Linked DNA regions of Homo sapiens: region 1 is linked to region 2. The links come from fine-mapping of genetic effects on gene expression. A gene starts in region 2. The other region holds a variant in brackets. All regions are shown on one strand. Distances are between the middles of the regions. Region 1 overlaps MICAL3 (microtubule associated monooxygenase, calponin and LIM domain containing 3). Region 2 holds the start of MICAL3 (microtubule associated monooxygenase, calponin and LIM domain containing 3).

Region 1 (5,369 bases), 28 kb before region 2:
TGGCATGGCCAACAGTCTCTAAGCATCTCTGATGCTGCCATCGCTGCTGTGCTCATCAGCGCCAGGTGCTGCTCTCCCACCCCTGTCCCTGTCCCATCACAGCCTGACAATTCTCAGCCACAACAAGGAGCTTTGTTGGTGGAGGAGGGAGGAATATGGCTAGAACCTCTGTAAGCTGACTTTCTGTGGGCTGGGGACAGTCCACGCTAAAGGGTAGCTGCCATTCCCCTGGGGGCTCCAGGTGCCAGGAGTGAGCACTCTGCATCTTCCCCCTGACCAAGCTGCTCCTCCTCTCTTGGCTTCCAACACTGGCACTGGCCTCCCGGGACCCATGCTACCTCCAGACTTCAACTGGCAACAGAAAAGAGACAGAGGGCTGGGTGCAGTGGGGTGCCTGTAATCCCAGCACTTTGCAGGGATCACCTGAGCCCAGCAGTTCAAGACCAGACTGGGCAACACAGAGAGAGCTTGTCTCTCCACAAAATTTAAAAATTAGTCGGGTGTGGTGGTGTGGGCCTGTAGTCCCAGCTACTCAGGAGGCTGAGGTTGGGGGATGGCCTGGCCCAGGAGGTCAAGGCTGCAGTGAGCCGAGATCATGCCACTCCAGCTGGGGCCACTCCAGCCGGGGCCACAGAGTAAGACTCTGTCTCAAAAAAAAAAAAGAAAAAAAAAGAAGCATGGGCAGGAGAGAAGAGAAGCCTGGGACCCACTAAGGTTTATTTCGCCTTTACACAGGAAAAGTCAATAAAAGCCACTAGTTAACCACAAGGCTGTGCTGTCCATCCCTCTCCTGCCAGAGTTAACCAGACCGAATCTCCTGCCAGAGTTAACCAGACTGAATCCTTCAACAGATATACAATTCAACAGACACCTGCAGACGTGCCTAATGCAGGAAGACTCCTCACTAGATTCCCTCACACATAACACACATGCACTCTGAGCTGGGCGCTAGAGAGACACGGCCTAACAGAACACGAAAAAGATACTGTTGTCCTTGCCAAGGTCCTCACTACTTAGCAGAAGCTCTTGCCCTTCCGCTTCCACCTTTCATCAAGGTATAAGCCAACAGTCTCACTTCTTCTCTCTTCTTTAATCTGATTTCTGTCCTCCCTTTTTCTTTTAAGAGACAGGGTCTCACTCTGTCACCCAGACTGGAATGCAGTGGTGTGATTATAGCTCACTGCAGCCTCAAACTCCTGGCCTCAAGTGATCCTCCCACCTCAGCCTTCTGAGCAGCTGCGACTATAGGTGTACACCACCATGCCCGGCTAATTTTTAAAATTTTTGTAGAGACAGGGTCTCACTATGTTGCGCAGGCTGGTCTCAAACTCCTGGCCTCAAGCAATACTCCTACCTTGGCCCAGCCTCTCAAAGTGCTGGGATTACAGACGTGAGACATTGCACCCAGCCTTTTCTTTAATTTTTTTTTTTTTTTTTTTTTTTTTTTTTGGGACAGTAGGGTCTTGCTCTATCACCAAGGCTGGAATGCAGTGGTGCGATCTCCGCTCACTGCAGCCTTGGCCTCCCAGGCTCAAATGATCCACCTACCTCATCCTCCTGAGTAGCTGGGAATACAAGTGTGCAACACCCACACCTGGCTATTTTTTGTATTTTTTTTGTAGAGACAGAGTTTCACCATGTTGGCCAGGCTGGTCTGGAACTCCTCACCTCAGGTGATCTGCCCACCTCGGCCTCTCAAAGGGCTGGGATTACAGGCATGACCCACCACACCTGGCCTCTTTTCTTTTTTAAAACTGCGGCAATCATCTCTCCTCTGTTGAACTCACCAATGAGAAAAAGTCAATGGGGCCAGGCATGGTGGCTCACACCTGTAATCCCAGCACTTTGAGAGGCTGAGGCAGGCAAATTGTTCGAGCCCAGGAGCTCTAGACCAGCCTGGACAATGTGGCAAAACCCCATCTCTACAAAAAATTTTAAAAATTAGCCAGGCTTGGTGGTGCACGCCTGTAGTCTCAACTACTCAGGCAGTCAAGGTTGCAGTGAACCATGATCGCACCACTGCACTCCAGCCTAGGTGGCAGAGTGAGATGCTGTCTCAATTTAAAAAAAAAAAAAAAAAAAAAAAGGCTGGGCACAGTGGCTCACACCTGTAATCCCAACACTTTGGGAGGCCGAGGCCAGTGGATCACAAGGTCAGGAGATCGAGACCATCCTGGCTAACACGGTGAAACCTTGTCTCTACTAAAAAAAAAATACAGAAAATTAGCCGGGCATGGTGGCAGGTGCCTGTAGTCCCAGCTACTCGGGAGGCTGAGGCAGGAGAATGGTGTGAACCCGGGAGGCGGAGCTTGCAGTGAGCCGAGGTCGTGCCACTGCACTCCAGCCTGGCCCACAGAGCAAGACTCCATCTCAGAAAAAAAAAAAAAAATGCAATCAACTGCAAGGCTTGGGGTGACAGTTTCCTGGTCATTCTTCCCAGTTTTTTTGTGTCTTTATAGCTAGAGATGACTAAAGCCCACCTCCAAGAAAACAGCAAGTCACGTACAACTGAAGCCCATGGGGGCAGGATGCTGTTCTCTCCACCGGGGCAATCCAAGCACCTGAGTGTCTGACACCACCCATCACCCAGGGGATCCGAGCTGAATTCTAAAGACTGGAACCAAAGATGACAGAGTGCGTGGCTGGAGAGAGGGGGAAGTCCACAGAGTTTAGGTAAATTTCTGAACCACATCCCCACCACGCCCACAATGTACTGCATTGAAGTACACC[G/A]GAAGCTAAAGACCAAAAAGGAATCAGATTTTCAGCTCTGCCACCTAAAGCAGAAACTGAGGGCCTTATTCACCGCACAGACTTTAGCCCAAGTGCCATGCCTCCAGTTTCACAGTTTCACCAGCAGCTCAAGCAAAATGGCCTGGACACTAAAGATGGCCTCTGGGTCAGAGTATCACTCATTTCCTCTGTCCACAAACCACTTTGATTCTCTTTGATTCTCTCTGTCCCTCATCTCCCCATCTAGTCTTTTTTTTTTTTTTTTTTTTTTTGAGACAGAGTCTTGCTCTGTCACCCAGGCTGGAGTGCTGGAGTGCAGTGGTGTGATCTCAGCTCACTGCAACCTCGGCCTCCTGAGCGCAGGCAATCCTCCCACCTCAGCCTCCAGAGTAGCTGGGACCACAGGTACACACCACCACGCCCAGCTAATTTTTGTACTTTTTGTAGAGATGGGGTTTAGCTATGTTGCCCAGTCTGCTCTCAAACTACTGGGCTCAAGCAATCTGCCCACCTCAACCTCCCAAAGTGTTGGTATTACAGGCATGAGCCACTGCGCCCGGCCCATCTGGTCTTATTAAATACTTCATTCTCTGCAAATGCAGACGTTTTCTCAGCTCTGATTATTTTTTCTAAAGTAATGACCCCCCACCTGGCTAGATGAATGCTTCTAGCAAAGGAAAAGACCAGAATGTGAAAATTGTACTGCAATAGAACATAAAGCCCGTCCAACCCCACCTCCCATCAGACCTGGGGTGGTGGCAGCAGCAGGCGTCAGGGCTCTCAGGCCTGCCCATTAGTCATCCCTAAGGCCCGTTAGCACACGGGTTAGGAGGAGCACACACTCTGGAATCAGAAAGCCCAGGATTGAACCCAGCCCTGCTTTCAGTCAAGGCTTTGTCACTCACTATCACTCCCTTGACCTAGGACCTCACAAAACCTTGTCATCCGTAAAACTGGGGATGATAAGTTCTACCTTGAATGTTGTTGTGAGGAATAAATGAGGTAATGTCTATGCAGCACCTAGCACAGATTCCTGCAGATAAACACTCAATAAATGTTAACTATCATCCACTACCTAGTCATCAGAAAAGCACAATGATCTGGTATCTTTAAGTCCTTCCGCTTCCAAAAAAAAAAAAGAAAAGAAAAAAGAAAAAGATGTGTGGATTTTTTCCCCCTAAAGGTCTCAGTGAAGTGAAACTTAAGAAGGAAAACCTGGGCCGGGTGTGGTGGCTTACGCCTGTAATCTCAGCACTTTGGAAGGCCAAGGAGGGTGAATCACCTGAGGTCAGGAGTTCGAGACCAGCCTGACCAACACGGTGAAACCCTGTCTCTACTAAAAAATACAAAAAATTAGCAGGGCGTGGTGGCAGGTGCCTGTAGTCCCAGCTACTTGAGAGGCTGAGGCAGAAGAATCGCTCGAACCCAGGAGGCAGAGTGCATGAGCCAAGACTGCGCCATTGCACTCCAGACTGGGCGCGACAGAGCAAGAGACTCCGTCTCAAAAAAAGAAGAAGAAGAAGAACCCAATTCAAATCCCAGTTCAGGGACCAACTCATTTGCAACTTAAAGCAAATCATGTTACCTCCATTTCTTTGCCTATAAAATGGGAATAATAGACTCTATTAAACTTTAACGACTTCAGAGACAATTAAGAATCAATGAGATAACAGGTCATGAAAAAGCTTTCACTTCCTCAAGTAAAAAGCAACTAAGTAGTAAATCCAGAGCATAATAATAATAATAATTATTATTATTATTATTTTTTTTTTGAGATGAAGTCTCGCTCTGTATCCCAGGCTGGAGAGCAGTGGCGTGATCTTGGCTCACTGCAACCTCCACCTCCCAATTCCCGGTTAAGCAATTCTCCTGCCTCAGCCTCCCCAGTAGCTGGGATTACAGGCGCGCACCACCACGCCCAGCTGGTATTTTTAGTACAAACAGGGTTTCACCACGTTGGCCAGGCTGGTCTTGAACTCCTGACCTCGTGATCCGCCCGCCTGGCCTCCCAAAGTGCTGGGATTACAGGTGTGAGCCACCGCGCCGGGCCCAGAGCATAATTATTATTAAAATGCCAGGCCCCATAATATTATGGAACATAAATAAGCCAATGATGGCTCTTATTTTTTCTAGAACATTAGATTTGATGCCCTTTTCGTCTGTTCACATGGAACCTGCTACAAGACGGAGAAGGCAAATGGCTGCTCCTAGCAGATCCCAGTTCAGAGGCACGGCCCAGCAAAGCTAGCACTCTGCCAATGGTCAGGCTTCGACCATCTGGGCCACTTCCCAGAAGCCAGTGCCAGGAGAAATTAGGTAATTCATCTGGTTCCACCTGGACATGTGAAACCAACGACAACCAAAATCCTCACCTGCAGGACTACTCGACAGATGCAGGAAAGGGTCCCCTTTGACCCTCTGCTCTTCTGTACTGAATGGTGTACCACTCTTCCAGGGCATGTGCCATCCTTCCTTTAAAGGGCAACACATGATCCAGGAAGAAGAGCTCAATTTTTCCTTATTTTTACTTCTAGGACCAAGACGTGAGTTTCATTTTTAATCTACCACAGAAATGTCTGGAGAGCTGGAAGTTTGAGTGGGAGGAGGAATGGGGGGGACCTCATTACCCTAATTTAAAA
Region 2 (5,369 bases):
TTTTAAGACCTTATCTAATTTCCTTGAGCCCCTTAGTCATTGTGAACTCGCTGTGGAGTGTCTGCCTCCACCTGCCTTGGTGTTTATGAACATTCATGGTAACTTTAGAAGGCAAGGGTTAGAGGAAACTTTTTGCCGCCCACCCCCAGTCTGCAACAGTACCTGTGGGGAAGATTTTACCCTGGGACTCCAATTTTCAGGGAGAGGAAGTTTCTAGGATTTCCCATAGGCTTACGAGGGACTCGCCATGTGGAAGGATTTTAGGCCTGAGAAGGATAATAACACTTTATAATTTCTAGGTGATCTTATTTGTTGCCTCTTCCTTCTCCAGAGTGACTACTGCATTCCGACCTGCACCCCCACCCTTTTTTTTTTCTTTTGAGACAGAGTCTTACTCTGTCACCCAGGCTGGAGTGCAGTGGTGTGATCTTGGCTCACTGCAACCTCCACCTCCCTGGCTCAAGCTATTCTCATGCCTCAGCCTCCCGAGTAGCTGGGACTACAGGCATGCACCACCACACCTGGTTAATTTTTGTATTTTTAGTAGAGACTGAGTTTCACTATGTTGGCCAGGCTGGTCTCCAACTCCTGGCCCCAAGTGATCTGCCTACCTCGGGCTCCCAAAGTGCTGGGATTACAGGCCTGAGCCTCTGCGCCCAGCCCCCTCTTCTGCTTTCTAAGTGTCCATTCTCCTTGTAGTGAGTGGGTGGTGGGGGGATATACACATGTGACTCTGGTTAGTACATAGGCAGCCATGAAGTCCACAAATGTACAGGGAGCCACAGCTTTCATGCTACAGACTTGCAAAGGTATGCATCTGCTTTCCCCTTGCCCTGGAATATAGATCAGAACACTTCATTTAGTGAAGGGACCTGTTCCGAGAGTGATGATCCCTCCCTCGTTTGAGACACTGCCTTCATCCTGAGCTTCTTGGAGCAGCCCAAGGCCCTGCCAGCTCTCTTTGCCTGTAGCTTGTAGGCATTTATGACAGTTGCATACCCTGCCCTCCAACGGCAGCCTGAGAGACTGAACTATTACCAAGTTCACCTGGAAAAATGTCACCCTGATTGATTAGAATGGTGGGTGGCCATCTTAGCTCATTAGAATCACCTGGGAAGTTAAAAAAAAAAAATCCAGTATGCACTCCAAATTTTCCCACCACCACTCCTCCCCACAAAAAGAAAATTTAAAAAATCCCAGTGTTTGGGCCATATCCCAGACCAATTAAGTCAGAATCTCCAGGGATTGGACCCAGGTAGCAGGATTTCTAAAAATCTCCCCAGCAGCCAGGCCTGAGAGCTAATGAATAGCACCACAGGGCCCAGCCTTTCAGCCTACAGCTTGTCTCGGTTTCACCCTTTTTTCATTTCTTTACAATGAAAATTCTAAATAGTTGATCACAGTGCCAGACCAATAAGAAAGCATTTTAGGGAGGAGAGAGGAGGGAAGGGGTTGGCAGGCACGGAGAGGACTTGACACACAGAAAGCATTTTGCTATGGAGTCATAACCATTTGATTCTAAGACACATGCAGCCTCCAGAAGTCATGCGGCCCCGCCCTCTGCTTCCAGGAGGGAATGAACTTGGCCGTCCTTTTGTTGCACACGCCCGGGAGCTGCGCCGGCGCAGCGCGCCCTGCAGCCTGGGAGCGCAAGCGTGTGCGCCACTGGTCCTGGGCCACCACCGCGCGCCGCGGGCGGGTGCAGGGCCCCTCTGCCGCAGGGAAACCGGCGTTCCCCGCGCAAAGCAGCCGCTGCTCCTAATGAGCTCATGGGTTCACCGCGCTGAGCTAGCCAGAGCGGACCCGGCTTCGCCAAGGGCCTGCTGGCTGTCCTGACACCTGGCCTACCTCGGGGGTGCCTGGGTACGCTCTTCCTTTGCCTGCGGGATAGAAGCACAATGAAAATGGGGTGGACGTGGCTGGGAGACAGCCCTGCTCTCTGGCAGGCTCTGGGGAGTGTGTGGTACGTGGCATCCGCACTGGTGGGTGTCGTGCGATGATCGAGACACGGATACTGGGTGTCTTTCCCACTAGGGGAGAGAGGGCTGCGTTTAGAGGGAAACGAAATAGATCCGAGAAACACAAAGATGTCACAAAGGAAACGCTTCCCCACCATAAGCAATCTAAATAAATGATTCTTAGAAGACATCCAGCAAAACACATAACCTTGTCATTTAGATTCGCTCGCCCACAGGGGGACTGGAGGGTACTCACCGACTAGGGCTTCACAGCCGCATCACCGCCGGCGGTGGGCGCCTGCCTCGGCAGGGGCAGGGTGGGTGCCCGCAGGGCACAGGTGCCGCCGTGGCTGCTCGCACAACCCCTGCAGCTGCGATCCCGCCCAGTTAGCCTCGGGGGCTGCACAGCCCAGCCCCCTCGCCCAGGGCCCAGGGGTTCTCAGGCCGCGCGGCGAGGACGGAGGGCTGCCCCGGGTGCCTGCCTACGCGGGCGCTCCCCGCCGGGACTCCGCCGGGGCTGCAGGAGCGCGCGCTGCTGGCTGGGCGGGCTGCGGCTCCGCGCGAGCGCCGTGGCAACGCGAGCGGGCGCCCCCAGGAGGCCGCGGAGCTGCGGCGTGGGACGCTTGGGTGAGGCTCAAGCCAAAACCAAACCCAAACCATTTCTCCTCCTCCCCATCTTTTCATTTTCTCCCCTTCTTTTCATTTTCTCCCCTTCTCCAACCCCTTCCTCGACACACGTTACTAGCACCTCGAAGGTTGGAAATTCCAGCACTCTCCTGAGGCCTCTTCCCCAGCGAATCCTGCTAACCACGCAGTCGGTGTTCGCTGTGTGTTCGAGCACACACCTCCTTGCAGTGGCTTCAGCACCCAGGTCTCCGGGAGCCAGTGAAGGAACCAAGTGTTGGATACTGAGCAAGTCGCGTAACATCTGAGTAGTCGTGAAATTGAAATTTCAACGGTATAAAGGACACGACGTTGTCTTACAGATTGAAAAATGCTATAAAATGAAGTTCTTACTGTTACTATGATGATGACCCTGGAGATCAGCGCAGAGCCCTGGGGGAGGGCTACAGTTGCAAGCGCTCCAAGGATCAGATCGCGCACTCCTCCCCACCGGAGAAAACCTCTTGATGCCGGAGCCCGGGCAGCCTCTTCCACACTTCCAGCCAGCCCCTTCCACACTTCCAGCCAGCCCCGGCATTGCCACAGCCCGTGGAGCTGGACAGAAATCCACCAGGCACTAAAATAAGTTAGATGGAAGACGGGATGGATTTGACCAAATTCCTATCAGCATCTGCTCAGTATAATTGCAACATTATAATCAGAGCAGAAAGAAGCCCAGAGATTATTTTGTCTTCAAGGATCATTGGCCTCAGTATTATCTCCATCTGAAGCTGTGTTGTCCAAAGCAGATTGACTCCAGCCGGCCAGCTCAGAAGAGGGCCGACTCTGGGCTGGCGACTCCTTGAGAAGGGCTCTCTCTGGTCCCAGGTGGTATTTACTTAACCGTATCATCATCTGCTTCATTCGTGTTCCCTTCATGTCCATCATGTGAGGACGGGAACTGACAGGGCCAGGGTGTCGGCTCAGAGGCAATCTCTGCTCATCCTCTAGAGCCCCACTTCATCACCCAGCCACTCTGTCCACTGTCTCCCCACCTACAAACCTGCAGGTGTTCTGCCCCAGTACTAGAATAAGGGAACACATTTTTACTGAGCTCTGACAATGTGACTGGGCTTTTCAGGAGCTATTTCATTTAATTTTTAATGTAAAACATTGTTTTACATATTAAGAACCTAAAAGCACAAACAGTAAGTAACTTGCTTGTGGAAGCTTATGCAGCGAGATAAGTGGTAAAGCTGCAATTCCCAGTTTTGTTTGATGCCACAGCTGAAGGTGCAAGGCCATCTGGGCACGGCCTGAGTGGATATTAGGGAAAAATGCCCTAAAAGGTCCAGAATCTCTAATAATTTCTCCTACTTCTCATTTTATTTTATTTTTGACGCTGGAGTTTTTTTTTTTTTTTTGAGTCAGGATCTTGCTCTATTGCCCAGGCTGGAGGGCAGTGGTGCAATTTCAGCTCACTGCAACCTCTGCCTCCCAAGTTCAAGCGATTCTCCTGCCTCAGCCTCCTGCATAGCTGGGACTACAGGCATGCACCACCATACCCAGCTAATTTTTGTGGAGATGGGGTTTTGCCACATGGCCCAGGCTGGTCTCAAACTCCTGAGCTCAAGCGATCTGCCCTCATCAGCCTCCCAAAGTGCTGGGATAACAGGCATGAGCCACTGCACTAGGCGAAAACGTTTATTTTAGAAAAACTGAAAAATATAGAAACATAAAGGAAGAAAAGCATTCATAATCTCATCACCTAGAGAAAGCCATTAGTAATATTCATATTTCTTTCCAGTCTTTTTTCTAGCTTTCTAGCTTTAAACTAAGTTGAGATAAAACCACACACACACACACACAGACACACAAGTGCATCCTGCTTTTTGTTAAAAATAACTTTGTGGGAAATTCTTCCTCCTTTGAGGATTTTTAAAAAACATTAATTTAAATGTCATACAATATTTTTATCATATGAATATCTCATAATTTCCCTTTTATTGAATATTTCCAACTTTTATTGATTGTAAATAATGGCAATAAAATTTTTTCTTCATAAATCTTGCTCCTATGTGTGAATAATTTCCTTCCAGGTGAGTCCCAGAAGTGGAATATTGAGTCCAAGGGTATTAACATTTTAAAGACTTTCCAATCCTCTCCAATGGGGATATCCAACTCACCCAGCCCCGTTCCCCACAGGACCTGCACGGTCCCACTCCACTGCCCTCCACACATCTGTTGTGCCCTCACCTGGTATATAGCATTTAAATTATTTAGCTCACAAACTCTTTGGGAAACTAGGGTTAGTTCTTTGTAGCTTTTTGGTTGATTATTTTGATTTACTCAGAAAAACGCAGTATCTCCTTTACTATTTTAAAATCCTCAATAAGTAAGAATAGGGAGAGAAAATAAGAGAAAGGGGTGAGCTTTCCAAGGCCCTGGGTTAAGCCAGGGATGCCGGAGCTTGGAGCTCACTTGATACTGACCCTGCTGATGGCCTCAGCCTCAGTCCTGCTATAGAAAAGCTGCCCTGTCCCTCTGATCCTCACGTTTTAATCTCAGCATTTACTGCTGATGGGATGATTGGGTAAATTGAAAAACTTGTCAGAGAGGGTTAGGCTTTGATGGGTGGGGTAGGGGAGACCTCTCAGGAAAAGCAACTAGAGTAATAGAACTGTCAAAGGTTGGCAATAAGGCTGTGTGATCTCGCTGATGGTTCTCCAAGATGAAATGAAACCTAATGCTGCTTTCTTCTTCCTTGAGAGAAGATAGCAAAGAGGGCAGAAGGTGAGGGCTGGGGGC

The links. PIP is the estimated chance that this variant, and not a neighbour inherited with it, causes the effect.
Region 1: its variant is fine-mapped to the expression of MICAL3 in whole blood (TOPMed, PIP 0.99).

Annotation. Positions count from the first base shown.
Region 1 is chr22:17,994,072-17,999,440 of GRCh38, forward strand. All of the region lies in intron 1 of MICAL3 (microtubule associated monooxygenase, calponin and LIM domain containing 3), which reads right to left. Among named protein-coding and RNA genes, the nearest start is that of MIR648, 16 kb to the left of the region's middle. RefSeq lists enhancers at 1-277, 278-778, 2,370-2,569. The variant G/A (reference allele first, on the strand shown) is at 2,731.
Region 2 is chr22:18,022,067-18,027,435 of GRCh38, forward strand. MICAL3 (microtubule associated monooxygenase, calponin and LIM domain containing 3) reads right to left here and starts at 2,495. Exons shown (of 32, transcript NM_015241.3): 1 at 2,215-2,495. RefSeq lists a silencer at 2,223-2,632.